Regions from separate parts of the Homo sapiens genome. Here region 2 is linked to region 1. Evidence: fine-mapped QTL for protein levels in blood plasma. A gene starts in region 1. The other region holds a variant in brackets. All regions are shown on one strand. Distances are between the middles of the regions. Region 1 holds the start of MFAP5 (microfibril associated protein 5). Region 2 overlaps A2ML1 (alpha-2-macroglobulin like 1).

The links. A credible set is the group of variants that fine-mapping cannot tell apart. PIP is the chance, under the fine-mapping model, that this variant and not a neighbour inherited with it causes the effect. The UK Biobank Pharma Proteomics Project read protein levels with antibody pairs (Olink). The fine-mapping took linkage between variants from a reference panel, not from the people measured, so its PIPs are less certain.
Region 2: its variant is the best candidate, but not a certain one, in a credible set for the plasma level of the MFAP5 protein (UK Biobank, PIP 0.65).

Annotation. Positions count from the first base shown.
Region 1 is chr12:8,658,551-8,667,978 of GRCh38, reverse strand. MFAP5 (microfibril associated protein 5) reads left to right here and starts at 5,153. Exons shown (of 10, transcript NM_003480.4): 1 at 5,153-5,352; 2 at 5,873-5,932; 3 at 7,081-7,116. The coding sequence starts at 5,875.
Region 2 is chr12:8,837,140-8,846,567 of GRCh38, reverse strand. It overlaps A2ML1 (alpha-2-macroglobulin like 1), which reads right to left. Exons shown (of 36, transcript NM_144670.6): 8 at 9,002-9,128; 9 at 8,118-8,232; 10 at 7,346-7,455; 11 at 5,032-5,199; 12 at 3,207-3,434; 13 at 1,066-1,126; 14 at 346-491. Among named protein-coding and RNA genes, the nearest start is that of A2ML1-AS1, 11 kb to the right of the region's middle. The variant G/A (reference allele first, on the strand shown) is at 3,953.

The DNA of each region.
Region 1 (9,428 bases):
AATTCCAGAGTTTCTCTCTCTCTTTTTTATTTTGGCAGGTAGAATGAGAAGATGGATGAATGAATTTTTAGAACTTGTCCTGTTTTGTTTGTCTATAGCCAGTTTTATCAGAGTTATTTATATCTTTTTAGTTGTGGGTTCAGGAACTTGAGCAGAATCTTAAACCTGGATCAAACATTTTACGTCTGTGTGGTCAAGAAAGTATGACTGTAACAGTGTAAGACCGACTACCAGTGCCATCAGAAAATTTACACAAAGCAAAATGATGAGACAGAAGCACTAATTATTGTAGATATAAATTATATATGTTTTACGTGAAATAACTTTTACAGTCTTACTGCTAAAATTCCTTTAAGACTAGCTGTTGCCCAATTTTTCTGCTTTGGGGGAGCCTATTCCTTTTTGTTCTATTGCCCCCATATCACTTCAATACATTGATTGCTTGTTCCATTTGCTGAACTCCATGTATACTCTCAAACTGCTTACTTCCCTAAAACGTTATCCTCTACCCCCTTGCATTTGACTAAGTCTTTGAATGTTAATATTTCAAAAATAGGAAGTTACTATTTCAAGTCTTCATCTCAATTCAATCCAGTTGACCAAATTTAGATAATTTTTTTTTTTGAGACAGGGTCTCACTGTGTTGCCCAGGAGGGAGTGTAGTGACACAGTCATAGCTCACTGCAGCCTAGACCTCCTGGGTTCAAGTAATCCTCCTGCCTTAGCCTCCTAAGTAGCTGGGACCACAGGCATATGCCACCATGCCTAATTAAAAACAATTTTTTGGCCAGGTGTGGTGGCTCATGCCTGTAATCCCAACACTTCAGGAGGCAGAGGTCGGTGGATCACCTGAGGTCAGGAGTTTGAGACCAGCCTGGCCAACATGGTGAAACCCTGTCTCTGCTAAAAAGTACAAAAATTAGCTGAGTGTGGTGGCAGGTGCCTGTAATCTCAGCTACTTGGGAGGCTGAGGCAGGAGAATCGCTTGAACTCGGGAGGCAGAGGTTGCAGTGAGCTGAGATTGTGCCATTGCACTCTGGCCTGCGTGACAGAGTGAAACTCTGTCTCAAAAAAAAAAAAAAAAAAAAAGGCCGGGCGCGGTGGCTCACATCTGTAATCCCAGCACTTTGGGAGGTGGAGGCAGGCAGATCACGAGGTCATGAGATCAAGACCATCCTGGCTAACACGATGAAACCCCGTCTCTACTAAAAATACAAAAATTATCCAGGCATGGTGGTGGGCACCTGTAGTCCCAGCTACTCGAGAGGCTGAGGCAGAAGAATAGCGTCAGCCTGGGAGGCAGAGCTTGCAATGAGCTGAGATTGCGCCACTGCACTCCGGCCTGGGTGACAGAGCGAGACTCTGTTTCAAAAAAAAAACAATTTTTTTTTTTTTTTTTTTTTTTTTTTTTTTTTTTTGTAGAGACAAGGTCTTGCCATGTTGCCCAGGCTGCAAATTTTGAGTTTTAATGTGCTAACCATTATGTCACCTAAAGAGGAGTAAGACAGCCTCTTCCATCAAGAAACACTCAGCCTAGGCTAGGGGCAGTGGCTCACGCTTATAATTCCAGCACTTTGAGAGGCCGAGGCAGGGGGATGACTTGAGCCCAGGAGTTCGATACCAGCCCGGGCAACATAGTGAGACCCCATTTCTATAAAAAATAAAAAACTAAGAAAAGAAACCCTCAGCCTAATAAGGATTAAAGATATGTAAAAGAGTTTAATAAAGTGGATTATATAATTATACAAATAAACAAAGAGTTGGTTTAATAGAGGGAATGATGAACTCTTTAGAGGCAGAGGAGACCAGGAAAGGTTTCTGGCAGGAGGCGACATCTAGGCCGGATTTTGATGGACAAACAAGTGTTCCCTAGCTTCAGTTTTCTAAGGACATATGTCTTTTGGCATCTAAGTCCATCTTTTGTGTTTGGCTGTTACTACTTCATTGCTTCATTCCTCTACACACACCACTCCCTCTCCCTGCCCTCCCTGCCTCATATAACCTTCCCCCTTTCTTTTCCTTCCTTTTATGGGAAATTTTTTGTGTGTGTGTTTAGCTCCTGGGTTTAATTTAGTTGGATGGGACTGTAGTAATAACGTTTCTGTACATTTGCCCAGAGGCCTTCAGCTAATGGGTGTATTCTTTACAAGCCAATAAACAGATGAATAAAACCAGCTTGACATCTCGCATCTCTGTCTCTCTCCTCTTTCTTTGCCCTTTGCCCATCTTTCACAGACATTTTATAAAAACGAAAATTTTCCTGGGTAACTCAAACATAGATTGCCTTCATTAAGTCACTTCTACACGCGCCAGTCAGTCCCATGAGGGGCTTTCTTATTGCTGGAGAATGTGTTGTCTACCCTCAGGAGATCCAGCCTATATGGGATGGAAGTATGGATTGCTACTCAGTGAGTCAAAAAGAACCCCAGAAAATTATGGACTTGTAACTCTGGATGGCATTTGCTCGTTTCTGACCATTGGTGCTGATTTTGACTTGATGTCATTAAATGATTAATTAATGTACAATGCAACAGAGGCTGACAAAATCACCCTGAGAAAAGCAAATCTGAGGATCTCTAAGCCTGGGGATCCAAACCTGGGCTCTGAGAACAAATGGGGAACTGTAGTAGAATAAAGGGCCCGCCATAGTTGCCATGAAAAAATTAACCAACCTTGGCCAGGTGTGGTGTCTCACACCTGTAATCCCAGTACTTTGGGAGGCTGAGGGGAGCAAATCACTTGAGGTTAGGAGTTCGAGACCAGCCAGGCCAACATGGCGAAACCCCCTCTCTACTAAAAATACAAAAATTAGCCGGGCCTGGTGGCGGATGCCTGTAATCCCAGTTACTAGGGCAGGAAAATCACTTGAACCCAGAAGACGAAGGTTTCAGTGAGCCAAGTTCACGCCACTACACTCCAGCTTGGGCAACAGAGCGAGACTCTATCTCACAAAAAAAAAAAAAAAAAAAAAAAGAAACTAACCAACCTTGAAACAAACTGCATTCTCAAAAGTCTTTAAAACCCAACAATATATGGTTGTCCTGCTCTTCTGCCAGTTCCTGTCTCACTACCTCTCCTTTCCTTCTAGGATGCTACTCCCTGCCTGTTCTCTTCTTCAGCCCTGCTCTGAACATTCTGTTCCTATTTTCACTGCCCCAACTCCAGACTACCTCCTACAACCCCAGGAGAACGCCCCCTCCCACTGCCTGGGGAGGCTCTCCTAAACTATAGCCTCTAGCCAGGCCAGCACATTGAGGTCATTGCTCTCCCTGCCAAATGACTGGCCTGAGTTCAGTGTCTCCATCTGTCTGAGCTTCATGGAAAACTTGATTGTTGCTCTAGGCTCTCTATTCTATGTCCTGCCTTAGCTATGTCCTGCTTTGCATCTGCTTTTTTGTTTCTTCTCCCAACACCCTTTTCTTCCCCTGACTCTCCTCAGACTAGAATCACATCTGTTTTCTAGTCTCAGCCCCTTCACTGGGGAGCAGATGGAAGAAGAGCAAGTTCTGGGGCAGGAAGATCAGGAAGAGCTGGGCGTAGCACTCAGCTTGTTCTGCGGACTGACCAGATTCCATGTATCTTAGAGATGTAGCACTTACAGCTCCCTCGGAGGTCCCAGAGGTGCTTACAAAGTGCGATTTGCTTATTTCTGTGTCCACTGCTCTTTTTTCCTCTCAACTAGACTCCTTCCTTCCTTCTTTCCTTCTTTCCTTCCTTCCATCATACCCCCTTTTATTTTCTTCTAGTATGTAATTTATTAATACTATCTGCTCTCTGTCTACCTGTACTCTTCTCTAATTTATTTCATCAGGGAGATATATAATGTAGACTAAAGGGGAGCCAACAGGAAACCTGAAACTTACATATTTCTATGGCATACAAGGTCCACCATTCCTCAGACTTGAGTTTCTGTAATTCAAGTTTGCTCTTGAATCCAAAGCGGGAATGTTTTAGTGGTTGAACCACTAGAGTCTCTGTGAATAAGAAGAAATACAAAGCCTTTAAAATTCCTGAATCAAGGCTGAGCAACATAGCAAAATCCTGTCTCTACAAAAAAATACATCTAAATTCGCCTGGCATAGTGGCATGCACCTGTAGTCCCAGCGACTTAGGAGGCTGAGGCAGGAGGATCACTTGAGCCCAGGTCAAGCCTGCAGTGAACTGTGATCATGCCACTGTACTCCAGCCTGGGTGACAGAGCAAGACCCTATCTTAAAAAAAAGAAAAAATCCTGGATCAGAGAAAGTGTTATCTACACATTATATGATCTAAGGAAAAATATTGGTAGAAAATGAGGCAAGCATAATAACCTTGCCTTTCAATTTTCTTTGGGCATCTGATTGCATTTTATCCTTAAGAGCCCAGAAACCCAGATTCTTAGTTAAGCTCAAACAAAGCCAAAAGACAAAGTAAGGCTGGCACCCCTTTCACAGAGCTTCTCTACATTTGAAAATGATTTGGAGAGTTCTGAAAAGTTCCTCAACTTTTTATAACCCTAAGGTAGCCAGCCTTCCTCTTGGACAAAACTCATAAGGTATCTGTGTTCGCTTGGTTGTGAGAATACATAGGATATTCCAAGGGGAAAAAAAACAAGAAGAGTCTAAATGTGTAGGTCAAGAAAGAGGCAGAGATGAAAAAGAAATACAGGAATAAAAAGAAATTTGTTAGTGCTGAAGAGACGAATATTGAAAAAGAAAGTGAGAAAGAAGGATGAAGGAATGATTCAAATATGGAATATAAGGAGGCTGAGGCAGGATAATTGCTTGAACTCAGGAGGCGGAGGTTGCAGTGAGCCAAGATCACATCATTGCACTCCAGCCTGGGTGACAGGAGCAAAACTCTGTCTTAAAAAAAAAAAACAAAAAACAAAGAAGAAGAAGATAGCCAGAGAGAGAGAAACAGCATCTATAATGTGCATTAAAACACACCAAGGAGGAGACGGAACTTTTCGGTAAGAAAGAACCCAAGGAACAAAGGGGAGCTGGGACCAGATCGTGAGAGGAGGGAAAATAGGCTAATGGAAGAAAGGCAATACATGAGCTGGGGCCAACACTTCCAGGGAGCAGCAAGAGCTCTCACCAGTGTAGTCATAACATTTGGAATGAGGGTGTGAGCAACTGCAAATTCCCATCTCCCTTCTCATTCCAGCCTCATTGTAACACACATTCTACGCCTAGCCTGGCTTTCTTGCTCTCCCTCATCTCATTGTTTCAGCGGAGGCCAAATCTGAAGTCCTTTCCAGGGAGTGGCTCTGTTCATCTTATTCGCCAGCCAAAGTAGGAACAGCGTAAGAGGAGAGAGACACATTCAGCAGCCAAAGGACTCGGTGGAAAGAGCAGAACACCATAGACAGTGAGTTATTTGATTACCTGAAACCCTAAAGAGACAGAGGGAATGTGTGTATGTCTGTGTGTGTGTGAAAGGGCTGGAGGGGGCAATGGGGAATGTCACTGAACTTAGTCTTGAGCAGACCTCCCAAATAACCGTGGAATTCTGATGAAGGAGACGCCAAGATGAGCAGATGATATGAAAAAGTCACGCATATGAGAAAGGAAGATTCCACATCAGGGGTGAAAGAGGCCAAAGGGTAGGGCCAAGTACGGACCATGTAGAATGTAAAATTTCCTCTGACTTGGTAGCAGAGAATAATAAAAGCAAGAATAATGGTAAGTGACCAAGGAATAGATTTGAGGGAGAAATGAATGTTGGGTGAAAGGTAAGAAAAGAGAGAAAGGGTTTGAGTCATAAGGGAAAATGAAGAAAGTTCTGGGAAGACAAAGAGACAGGGACCTCAGAGGCATCTTTCCCTGGCACTGAAATGCTGATGTGCCTCTGAGCATCACATTCTCTGCTATGCCCACCACCCCTATAGATATGTCGCTCTTGGGACCCAAGGTGCTGCTGTTTCTTGCTGCATTCATCATCACCTCTGGTGAGTCCTTTATTCTTTGCTCCCTAAACCCTCAGCTCCTCAGCTATACACGTGTGTGGCAGGAGATGGGATGGAATGAGGTCGAAGAGGAATAGCAGTAGAGATGCTTGGTATTGAGCTCTGGAATTCCTATTAGAAGAACAGATTTTGTGTTAAGAAAAAAAGTTCAGGAATGTGACTAGACTTCAGACTAGGGGAAAGGCCTCCCAAGAATTATGAAACTAAGGTGCAACTAAGATACACACAAATGCATATTAACCACCCAAAGAGGGTCACATATGAGTAAACAAATTGCAAAGCAAAAAAGAAGCTGATATACAAATGCATACACAAACATAGAGGAGGGACTACCTAGAAAGAAACTGGACCTGGGCTGGGCATGGTGGGCTCACACCTATACTCCTAGCACTTTGGGAGACTGAGTGGAGAGGATCACTGAGACCAACCTGGGCAACATAGTGAGATGAGTTAACCTCATCTCCATTAAAAAAAAAAAGGAAAAAAGAAAAAAAGAAACTGGACCAAATGTAAATCTTGAAGAAGAACAGTGGGAATACATACACTATTACCATCATGCATGCAGGTATACTCACATGCATGCAAAAAATATATGCCATACTGACACACAAGAGAAAAGTGATCTTCACAGATTTCCCAGAATCTGGCTAGAAGACTGGCCACAGAAAGTGAACTTTAGGCTGTAAAGATGTCCTACTCTATTTTTTTCCCTCCTTCTTCCGATACAGATTGAGAAAAATAATTCTTCTGTCTTGTTCACTAGCATAGCTAGCGGGGAAGCCGTGGGGCTAGAAGGGCTGCCAGGCCTCTCAGTGGAGCTGGACTTCATTCCTGGCCAGGAATGAGGGTAAGAGGGCAGCAGGGCTTTGTTCTCAGGAACTTGTCTTTTTTTTCTTTTTACCAAACAAATGCACAGCAGTGAAGGAACTTGTCTTTCTGAAGTCTTTCTATTCCTATTGGTTTTGTTCATAGCACTAATGGTCTCAGTAATTTTATATTGAGCTATATAGGAATAAGTCACAAAGATAAAGTATAACCATTTCTCCATGATTTTCTGATTTGTCTCATAAAAGGGTTACGAGGTATAGAGCTGCAGTCACTCACATCTCTTTTCTCTTCCTTTGCTATAGACTGGATACCCCTGGGGGTCAATAGTCAACGAGGAGGTAGGTGAACCCTTGGATAGCGGCTCTGTTGGGGTTCTTATCAGGAAAATTTAGATGAACAGAGTTAAAAAATCCTTCCTGCTTATCTATCGCTGCCAAAAAAAAAAAAAAAAGAATATTTCCTACAACAAAGAGATGCATTGCCAAAGTGTGAGAAATAGGATCAACTTCACCAGTTTCCACAATCCTATTATCCCATTCATAAAAGCTTCTTGTGTGTGTGTTTTTAAACTACTGAAACACCTTCCCAAGACATCCTCTATGACCATTTCTGTTTTCATTTTTCTTTACACATCTCCTATCTTACTCAGAAAATGCTTACTAGTCCTTACAAAAAGCGTTCCTTAATTCATGTAACAGTGGAAAAATGAAAGACAGGATAAGAAGTCATCTTATACCCATAATCCCAGCACTTTGGGAGGCTGAGGCAGGAGGATCGCTTGAGCCCAGGAGTTTGAGACCAAACTGGGCAGCACAGGGAGACCTCATCTCTAGAAAAAAAAAAAATTAGCCTGGCATGGTGGCGCATGCCTGTGGTCCTAGCTACTCAGGAGGCTGAGGCATGAGAATGGCTTGAACCCAGGAGGCTGCGGTTGCAGTGAGCCATGATCATGCCATTGCACTCCAGCCTGGGCAACAGAGTGGAACTGACTAAAAAAAAAAAAAAAAAATTAGAAAAAAAGAAGTCATGTCAATCCTAGGTGAAATTGTGGCACAACTGAGCAAAACCCAAAAGGTATTTTTTGGTTTTTCAGCTTTTTAGGTAATTTTTGCTCACACCATTCTCTATAACAAAAATCCCAAAAGTTGTGACCCCTAGAGGACCACTTCCTTCGACTTCATGAAGAAAACTCCATTCTGCCTCAAGGCATTCAACATAATTATAATTTATCTCTTTATTTCTCCCATCCCAGGAGAGTTAGAGGACAGAGCGCTCCAGTAGGCAACCTATTAATGGGATCATGAAATCAATTTAGTGGGTCACAACTGGTATTAATTTTTAAAATGAATTAAGATAGACCAAAACAAATATACCGGGATGCATTGCATGTGTTTTGCAAGAGTAAAGTATTATTTCATACAACTTTAATAAAACTTCTCTTAGTTTTCCATATGTATATACCAGGGTACAGTATATTTTTCTTGCAGTGGGTCCTGGTACAGAAGATAAAAATACAAAAATTTTTTTTCTGTTGTTGGTAAAAATACCCGAATCCCCGAGTTTCTGAATCTAAATCTGAATCTAGGAAAAAAGGGCAGGAATGTGACTAGACTTCAGACTAGGGGAAAGGCCTCCCGAGATTTTAGTACCAGCAAAACTGAAAATCGGAATTCATTTTTCTGGGCTGATTAGGAACCAGTCCTGTGTTAAGACTTTAGATGCTTTTCTCGCAGACATATCATAAGGTATGATGAACTGTCTTGCCTGGTGTGGTGGCTCATGCCTGTAATACCAAGCACTTTGGGAGGTTGAGGTGGGATGATCACTTGAGGCCATGAGTTTGAGATCAGCCTGGGCAATATAGTGAGACCCTTTTATTTTTTTTTTTTTTCGAGACAGAGTTTCGCTCTTGTTACCCAGGCTGTAGTACAATTGCGCGATCTCGGCTCACTGCAACCTCCATCTCCCAAGTACAAGTGATTCTCCTGTCTCAGCCTCCTAAGTAGCTTGGATTATAGGCATGCGCCACCACAACTGGCTAATTTTTTGTATTTAGTAGAGACAGGGTTTCACCGTGTTAGTCAGGCTGGTCGCAAACTCCTGACCTCAGATGATCTGCAGGCCTCGGCCTCCCAAAGTGCTGGGATTACAGGTGTGAGCCACTGCTGCCAGCCTGAGACCCTATCTCTTAAAAAAAAAAAAAAAAAAGCCAGGTGTGGTGGTTTGCTGGTTGTCCTAGCTACTCAGAAGGCTGAGGTGAAAGGATCGCTTGAGCCCAGGAGTTCGAAGCTGCAAAGGAGCTATGATGGCACCACTGTACTGCAGCCTGGGCAACAGAGTGAGACTCTCTCAAAAAAAGAAAAGGAAAAGAAAATACGTTAATTTTTTTTTTCAGAGAGAACTTCATGAATACTAGATAAAGCATTTATATGGTGATAGCTCTTGGAACAGTTGGTTAAACTGAGGTATATGCAGAAAAGCAGTACTCTGCCCTGAAATCCCAGAGACAGCTAGGATACATTCTCAAGCCCTCTGTTCCCCCATTGCTTTGCTCCTGTTTCTGTGAGTGGCTGGACTGGAATGTAGCTAGGCCTCTAGAGAAAGGGAACCAGGAAGGATTGGGCTACACCCGGGAGAGGCTCCACTCCTC
Region 2 (9,428 bases), 180 kb before region 1:
ACACCCAGCTAATTAAAAATTTTTTTGTACAGACAGGATCTTGCTATGTTGTCCAGGCTGGTCTTGAACCCTTGACCTAAAGAAATCCCTCTGCCTTGGCCTCCCAAAGCACTGGGATTACAGGAGTGAGCCACTGCACCTCAGCCAGCATGACTTCTTAAAATAAAAAGTAGGAGAGAGATGGATTTCAACACAAACCCCAAACACTAAAGATATAAATATAATACAACATCCAACGTCAACACTATCTTCTTTCCCTGACTTGTCTTGTTTCCAACCGCAGCACACACAAGATCTTTCTCTATGCCCAACTTTTATCTTCACCCTTCTCCGCTATCATTTTACCTGATTGTCAAAGCACATCTCGACTGAGAACTGAATTTTGTCAGCTACAACACCTCCACTGGGAAAAATGGCATAGATCACCAGGGAAGGATCAGGGGCCAGTCTCGAAGTGAAGGTCAGTGAGAGAGAGAAGGAGGCTTTCAGTCCTGAAAGAGAAGAGGGAATATACAGGAAAATCAGAATGCACATTCACCTGCCAACGGCATCTAACCATATGTACTTTTCACTGAGCCAGTGCAGGCACCATGGTGCAAGTTACTTCTCATTTTTCTCTTCTCCTGTGATAACTGTTAGTGCTCCAATTCCATTACTTCTGTGGATAAGAATTTTTTTATTTTATTTTATTTTATTTTATTTATTTTTTTTTTTTTTTGAGACGGAGTCTCGCTCTGTCGCCCAGGCTGGAGCGCAGTGGCATGATCTCGGCTCACTGCAAGCTCCGCCTCCCGGGTTCACGCCATTCTCCTGCCTCAGCCTCCCGAGTAGCTGGGACTACAGGGGCCCGCCCCGACGTCCGGCTAATTTTTTTTTGTATTTTTAGTAGAGACGGGGTTTCACCATGTTAGCCAAGATGGTCTCGATCTCCCGACATCGTGATCCGCCCACCTCGGCCTCCCAAAGTGCTGGGATTACAGGCATGAGCCACCGCGCCTGGCCAAGAATTGTTTTCTGGAATTTAAAAATATCCTGTTTGCTTCCGGGAAAAGCATGTACACTCACCTTTCTTCTTAGAGTTCAGGTGTTTCTGCCCCTCCATCACCAAACTTCCTTTCCCTATTAACTAAAGAAGAAAAGAAAAGAATCAACTGCACAGAAGTTACAGTAATTTCACCTTGGACCAACTTCCAGAGCATCTCTGCATCCCTTCATGAGGAGAGGTTCCTTTCACAGTTCAGAGTCCGGGTCAATACCTCACCCAGCATCCACTAGCTTGACAAATGCAGGATGCTGCCAACGGGTCCTGGTGGCTCCTCCTGCAGTTGGAGGTCTGGCTGAGAACCACGCAGGTGGATGGGAGGAGTCTGACAGCATAGAAATTGTTCCTCACCATAGATAACTGTCTGCCATTTCTTGAAGATCTCCAAATTTTATTTTCTTATAATCTTTGTAACAGAAAGTCAGCGAAAATCTATCCTCATAAGTGTTTTTTAATTACAGCTCAATTTAAAATTCAGTGGAAATAATTTCATCCTAAACCACCCTGAGCCCTTCTGACATTGAACCCTCTAGAGGAGAAATCTCCTCTTCTAACTCCCCCTTCCCGTCCACTCTCACTTGAAACAGAACTCGGTGATCTTGTTTGCAAGCAGGCTCTCATCCCACGCTCCTGCAGGGCTCCAAGGTCGGTTCCTTGGACGCCTGCCCAGCATTAGCCATTCCACGTGGCTCGGCCCTAACTTCACTTTTGTCCTACACCTCCCCACACTTCGGTCCTGAAGACAGAGCCCGCTTTATCACTGGACTTGTTATTTTCCACCTATCTTTTCTCTTTTCGTTGTATTAGGATGATTTTTTTTTTTTCACTTAACGACAACACTGAAACCATGGAAGCTACTGCAATGATCCAGAGGGGAGAAAGTCTCTCATAGACTGACAGGAGGATAACGGAACAAAGAGGCTCCGAGCCATCAAACCTGAGGTTTCCATTCTACTTCCTGACTGTCACCAAGGTGACAGGAAAGCTGCTTATCCTTATACATTGCTTTCAGGCTACCAAGTTATGATTTTATTTCCCCAATGAGGCTGCTATCGATGTGAATTTAACCCCATATCATCTATTTGATAATATTGACCAATGGAACACAGAATGAAATGTATCCTGGCTGGGCTCGGTGGCTCATGCCTGCAGTCCCAGCACTTTGGGAGGCCAAGGTGGGCAGATCACCTGAGGTCAGGAGTTCAAGACCAGCCTGGCCAACATGGCGAAACCCTGTCTCATATAAATTAAAAAAAAAAAAAAAGTATCCTGAGTCCCATCCCTCCCCACTCTCCCTCCCAACCACCCAGCTGGTTTTGTTTTTGTTTTTGTTTTTTTTGGTCCTGGCCAGCACTATTTTCTCAGGTAATTCCTCATTTTATTTTCCCACACAATTTTCCTGTGTTCCTGCTCAGAATCTCTTTCTTCCCCCAATGTTTTCCATCTCTTACACCTATACTGGGCCATGCAGTATCTCATAGCCACATAGGAATATTGAATACTTGAGGCCGGGCGCGGTGGCTCATGCCTGTAATCCCAGCACTCTGGGAGACTGAGGCAGGTGGATCACGAGGTCAGGAGATCGAGACCATCCTAGTTAACATGGTGAAACCCCGTCTCTACTAAAAATACAAAAAAAATTAGCTGGGCGTGGTGGCGGGCGCCTGTAGTCCCAGCTACTTGGGAGGCTGAGACAGGAGAATGGCGTGAACCTGGGAGGTGGAGCTTGCAGTGAGCCAAGAACACACCACTGCACTCCAGCCTGGGCAACTGAGCGAGACTGTGTCTCAAAAAAAAAAAAAAAGAAAAAAAAAGGAATATTGAATACTTGAAATGTGCTCAGTCCAAACTGAGATACGCTTTAAGTGTAAAATACATACTGAGTTTCAAAGACACCGTTGAAACAAGAATGTAAAATATCTATTAAAACTTTTTATATGGCTTTCGTGTTAAAATGTTAATATTTTGGATATAATGGGTTAAATAAAAAATACATTTAAAATTAATGTCAACTGTTCTTTTACTTTTTTAGTGTGGCTTTAAAATTGTTTTTAATTAGATGTGCATCTGCAATTCAGATAGCCTAGGTGCACCCTCTGGCTGACTCTTCTCATTCTCTTTCCTTCCCAGCATACTCTCACCCGTCCCCGTTTCCCGGTCTCACATAGTAGGAGAAGCTGATCTCTTGGTCAGGGCTTGCATCGGCCGGGTCGATGTAATAATCCACCAGCACTTCCTGGGGCTGGCCACATTTCAAGGGGCCGTTTAGCCGGTGGATGCCAAGGAAGCTGCGGGTTGTGCTGTAGAAGGGTCGCAGGTGCAGGTAGGCATTTTGGTAGTAACGTGGCACTTGTTCCGGATTATATACTAAGTCTTCCATTTGAAACTTTCCCTGAGAATAAAAGAGAGAGAGAGAATTTTAGCATGTGCTCCAACCATGGAAACCCCACGGACTTGTTACGGTTTTCAAATAGAGCTCTTTCTCTCAAATCTTCACTGCCTGAGAATGGCATGTGGGTATTTCATTAGCGGTCCAGCCAAGGATGGATAAAGAATCCATAAACGTAGCTGTGTACAGCAATATTTTGGTATGTAGGAGAGCGACAGAAGGGCTGAATTATAGTTACTAAATGAGAGGAAATTGTGGGTGATGTATCTTCACAGATATTCCTGGGATAGATGAACGTGACTTAGATTATATAGAAATCAAAGATTATATTTCAGGGATAAGAAAACTAGGCACAGAAGACACTAAGATTGAAAAATAATTATTTCTGAGTAACTGAGTCATGCCTAGAGTAAAGAAATAGTCAAATTAGCCACAAGGCAAGTAGTATGTGTTTGCTTAAGTCCTGAGGTTGAACGATCTCATTAATGGCTCCAATTCCTCACACGCACCCCGCCCCCTCC[G/A]AGATCAGCATCCTTGAGCATGTGGTCTTCCAGTACCCTCCTAGTCTGTGCCCACTGTTCGATTTGTTGGGAAAGGGGTGTTAACATATGCAACAGGGGCCGGGCGCGGTGGCTCACGCCTGTAATCCCAGCACTTTGGGAGGCCAAGGCGGGCGGATCACGAGGTCAGGAGATCGAGACCATCCTGGCTAACACAGTGAAACCCCATCTCTACTAAAAAATACAAAAAATTAGCCGGGCGTGGTGGCAGGCGCCTGTAGTCCCAGCTACTCGGGGAGGCTGAGGCAGGAGAATGGCGTGAACCGGGGAGGCGGAGCTTGCAGTGAGCCGAGATCACGCCACTGCACTCCAGCCTGGGTGACAGAGTGAGACTCTGTCTCAAAAAAAAAAAAAAGAAAAAAACATATGCAATATACAGAGGTTTGGAAAAGCCCTGAACATCAGCTTTTGCACTTGCACCTCATCACTGCCATAAGAATATACCTGGGCTAGCTGGCTCCTGCATGAGAGGCATGCGGAGCAGCAGCTTATGGCCAGCCGATCTGCAGACAGTTCTGGAAATCGAAATCAGCAGAGCTGCCTGACTGAATGCCCCAGATGCACAAGCAGTGAATGCTTTCTGCTGCACGATACTGAAGTTTGTAGCTGTTTGATAAGAAGCATTGTTGTGGCAGTTGATAATTGATACTTATAAGTTATCTAGAATCTAGAGTTCTCTTGTTTGCTGTTTTTATTAAGTAATGAGGGGATGGGAAGGGGAAAGAGAAAGAAAAAGACTCTGAGTCACCTATTCCTCCCTGCTCTAACTTCATATATAGATAGGATCAGATAGAGATGGGGGTAAGTTAAAAGATGTATTAGTAGAAATAGTAGTTTTCATCCAAGTAAGGACTATTTATTTGATTGATATTAAAAACAGAAAGCATCTAAGGAAAACTTTTTGTCAACGGGAGAGCAGGACTTGTGAGTGAGAAAGATGTAATTCCAAGCAGAGGGGAGAATAGGAAACAGGAAAATTCTGAAGTTTTCCTTCAGGGAAGCCTTCCTTTCTAGGAAGCTGGTCCTCCGTCCATGCTTACCTCCAGAGAAACGTCTGTCCCATTCCAACCGGATGTCTCCAAGGTAAAGGGAGCTAGGCCATTGTTATCAGTAACCAGGGTCTGGTTGAAGGTTCCATTTGTGCCATAAATCACCAGAAACACTAGATGGTTCTTGAGGAAGGAGTCATCATGGCCCCTAACTCTTATCTGAAGGACAAAGATCATTACGGATTAGAATTAGGTTTGGAGTAAGCTTGAGTATGAGGTAAAGTGAAATATTAGGTTGGTGCAAACTAATTGTGGTTTTTGGCACTAAAAGTAATAACAGAATTTCTAAGAATACATTTCAGGAAAGAGTCCTGAAAAAGATAAATGTGATTCAAGCTTTTGAACTAGGATCTGTGAGGAACCGAAAAACAAACAGAAGTAACAGCCCAGAGCAGAGCTAGATTTGCCCGGTGGCTAATGAAGCTTCAGGGCTCTTCATATGCACAGGCTCCTTCAAAGGTTCTGCACGTTGTTTTGCTTTCTTTTTTCTTTCCTTCCTTCCTTCCTTCCTTCCGTCCTTCCTTCCTTCCTTCCTTCCTTCCTTCCTTCTTTCCTTCCTTCTTTCCTTCCTTCCTTCCTTCTTTCCTTCCTTTCTTCCTTCCTTTCTTTCTTTTTTTTTTTGAGATGGAGTCTCAGTCTGTCGCCCAGGCTGGAGTGCAGTGGGACGAGCTCAGCTCACTGCAACCTCTACCTCCTGGGTTCAAGCGATTCTCCTGCCTCAGCCTCCCAAGTAGTGGGACTATAGGCCCGTGCCACCATACCTGGCTAATTTTTGTATTTTTAGCAGGGACGGGTTTTCACCATGTTGGTCAGGCTGGTTTCGAACTCCTGACCTCGTGATTCGCCCGCCTCAGCCTCCCAAAGTGCTGAGATTACAGGCATGAGCCATTGTGCCCAGCCTATTTTGCTTTCTTTTTCTTAAAGCGAATCCCCTACCCTCCCAAACTGTGTAATCCTTAGGCTCTAAAAATAATTTGCACCCACCCTTGGTCTAGAGAAATGATAACTGAGGAATAAATGCATCTCTATGTGTGCAATATTATTGTGTGGACCAGCTGTACAAGAAGTAAAGAAAGATAAGCTGAACAAGAGAGAAATTCAGTTAGATATCAGAAAGAAAACACTAGCAAAGAAAATTTAATTATGTATTTATCTTTTTTTTTTTTTTTTGAGACAGTCTCGCTCTATCGCCCAGGCTGGAGTGCAGTGGCATGATCTTAGCTCACTGCACCCCCTGCCTCCTGTGTTCAAGCCATTCTCGTGCCTCAGACTCCCGAGTAGCTGGGATTATAGGCATGCGCCACCATGCCTGGCTAATTTTTGTATTTTTAGCAGAGACAAGTTTTCGCCATGTTGGCCAGGCTGGTCTCGAACTCTTGGCCTCAAGTGATCTGCCCACCTCAGCCTCCCAAAGTGCTAGGACTGCAGACGTGAGCCACCACGCCCTGCCGGAAATTTTAAAATCTCTAAAGAAAATTGCTAGTCAGGCACAGTGGCTCACTCCTGTAATCCCAGCACTTTGGGAGGCCCAGGTGGACGGATCACCTGAGGTCGGGAGTTCAAGACCAGCCTGACCAACATGGAGAAACCCCATCTCTACTAAAAATACAAAATTAGCCAGGCATGGGGACACATGTCTGTAATCCCAGCTACTCAGGAGGCTGAGACAGGAGAATCGCTTGAACCTGGGAGGTGGAGGTTGCGGTGAACAGAGATCGCGCCATTGCACTTCAGGCTGGGCAACAAGAGCGAGACTGTCTCAAAACAAAACAAAACAAAACAAAAACAGAAAGAAAAACAAAATTGCTTACAGAGCTATACATGGCTGTCAAGGAAAGTTTCATATTAACCTTGCCTAGATGCAGGAGACCAGGCTGGATGATTTCTCTAGAAACCCTGCAGCTCTTAAATATGAAGATTTAGACATTAGAAGATCAGCCCCTGGCATTAGAAAGACCCCTAAGGTGTCATTAATATTCAAGGCACTTCTTCTATGGGATTGGGGCAGCAGAGTACAGGGAGTGGAGAGTGTATACCCGGGAGGCAGGCTTCCTGGATTTGGTCATAGTTCCCATCTATTTGTGATCACCTTGGAAAAATCACTTAGCCTCTGTTGCCTGTCTCAGTATCCATAAAATGGGGCCAATACAGTGCCTGCCTCATTGCATTATTCTAAAGATTAAAATGAATACACATAAAGTACTTGGAACAGCACTAAGTTAGCTATGTGGCTATGGCTGCAGGAAGGAGGCAAAGTAGATGGTTATGCATTTTTTTGTCTATGCAGAGAAAAGTTTTAACATACCTTCCCACTGAAGGGGAAATTTGGATGGTAAAAATTGCTGGTGTCTTCAAAGGTCATTGATCCCATTTGTGGAGAAATGTAGATATTCTGAGTGGCATTGGCCTCCACACCTGCAGAGGGAAACCAGATGTATAAAGATCTAGGCACCTGATATTCTCATCTTCACGTTTAATGTCAAGTCTCTGAGAGAATGGTGGCAGAGGGATGAAGTTGAATGTATTTCTGGCCAAAGATCCAAACCAACCTCACCTCCCCAATCTTTTGGAGAAGTATGTAGTATTTCTTCTTTTTTTTTTTTTTTTTTTTTTAAGATGGAGTCTCGCTCTGTTGCCCAGGCTGGAGTGCAGTGGCACGATCTCGGCTCACTGCAAGCTCCACCTCCTGGGTTCACGCCATTCTCCTGCCTCAGCCTCCCCGAGTAGCTGGGACTACAGGCGCCCCCGTCACCATGCCCGGCTAATTTTTTGTATTTTTAGTAGAGACAGGGTTTCACCGTGTTAGCCAGGATGGTCTCGATCTCCTGACCTCGTGATCTGCCCGTCTCGGCCTCCCAAAGTGCTGGCATTACAGGCGTGAGCCACCATGCCCGGCCCGTAGTATTTCTTATAGATGGCAAGATGGGATCTGGTATTTCCCCTTGACTATGAACTAGGAACAAGGTACCATCCAAACACTCAAGAGGGTAGGTCTTGTATACTTGGAGTAAATCTGTCCCTGGGACCAGCCCTTTTTCTTTCTCTTTTCTTAATGAGCCAAGGAGCACCCTACTTACCTGTCCCTTCCTCCACAACAGTAGCCACAATATTGATTTGATGGCTGTACGCATATCCAATGAGGTCAAAGGTGGCCATGTCCACAGGTGCTGAGAAACATCCTGTTTTGTCAGTCTAGTGAGGTGATCAGAGACAGAGATAGAGAGCAGATGAGGAATCTAATCTCTACATCCATTTTATAATGTTCTGTAGAAGGAAATAATTTCTCATCTCCACACTTCAGTTTCTAATATAGAAAAACTCTCCTACAACATGAAGTATACACTTGCACATAGATAATCATGAAATGACTTTGAAGCTCCAAGATTTGGGAAAGGGAAAAAGAAATGCCTTCAAAACTGGAAAATTGTACCTTACTGGGGTTTAGGTCAATTTCTTGGTTCCAAGGCAGACTCTAAAACACTCCCTGTTTAGGATAAAGATCCCTGCTTTGTTCTTTGGAACTGGGATGATAATTCTGGGAAATGCTTTCTACTTTGGGCTGTTTAGCTCTTTTCTAGATTGTTGCTTCCTTACGCTTTAGGACATGTGGATACGTTCTTTTTTTTTTTTTTTTTTCGGTGGGGGAGGGGGACTGAGTGTTGCTCTGTCACCCACGCTGGAGTGCAGTGGCACCATCTCGGCTCATTGCAACCTCCGCCTCCCGGGTTCAAGTGATTCTCCTGTCTCAGCCTCCAAGTAGCTGGGATTTCAGGTGCACACCACCATGCCCAGCCAATTTTTTGAATTTTTAATAGAGACGGGGTTTCCCCATATTGGTCAGGCTGGTCTCAAACTCCTGACCTCGTGATCCGCCCATCTCGGCCTCCCAAAGTGCTGGGATGACAGGCGTGAGCCACCGTGCCTGGCCGATAGGTTCCTTTTTAACCTGTCATTTACTCACCTGTCCAGAGAGGTTCCTGCATTTGTCAGGAAGCTGTTCCCGTTCCACCTCTCGATACCAGTAAGTATTTGCCTTCTGACACACAGATACCTGCACTGCCCCTAGCATGGGCTTTCCATAGGTGTACCTAACCAAGAAAAGCATAAGGAGTCAGAGTTGGGAAATTCCACTTGAGATCCAACTCTTCCCTCAAACACCACTTCTTCCCTCTCACACTCCAGCCTCTGAAAGAAAGCTCTGACAATCTGGGCCAGTGCAGTGGCTCACGCCTGTAATCCCAGCACTTTGGGAGGCCGAGACAGGTGTATTACTTGAGGCCAGGGGTTCAAGACCAGCCTAGGCAACATGGCAAGATCCTGTCTCTACTAAAAATACAAAAATTTGCTGGGCATGGTGGCTCACACCTGTAATCCCAGCTTCTCCGGGA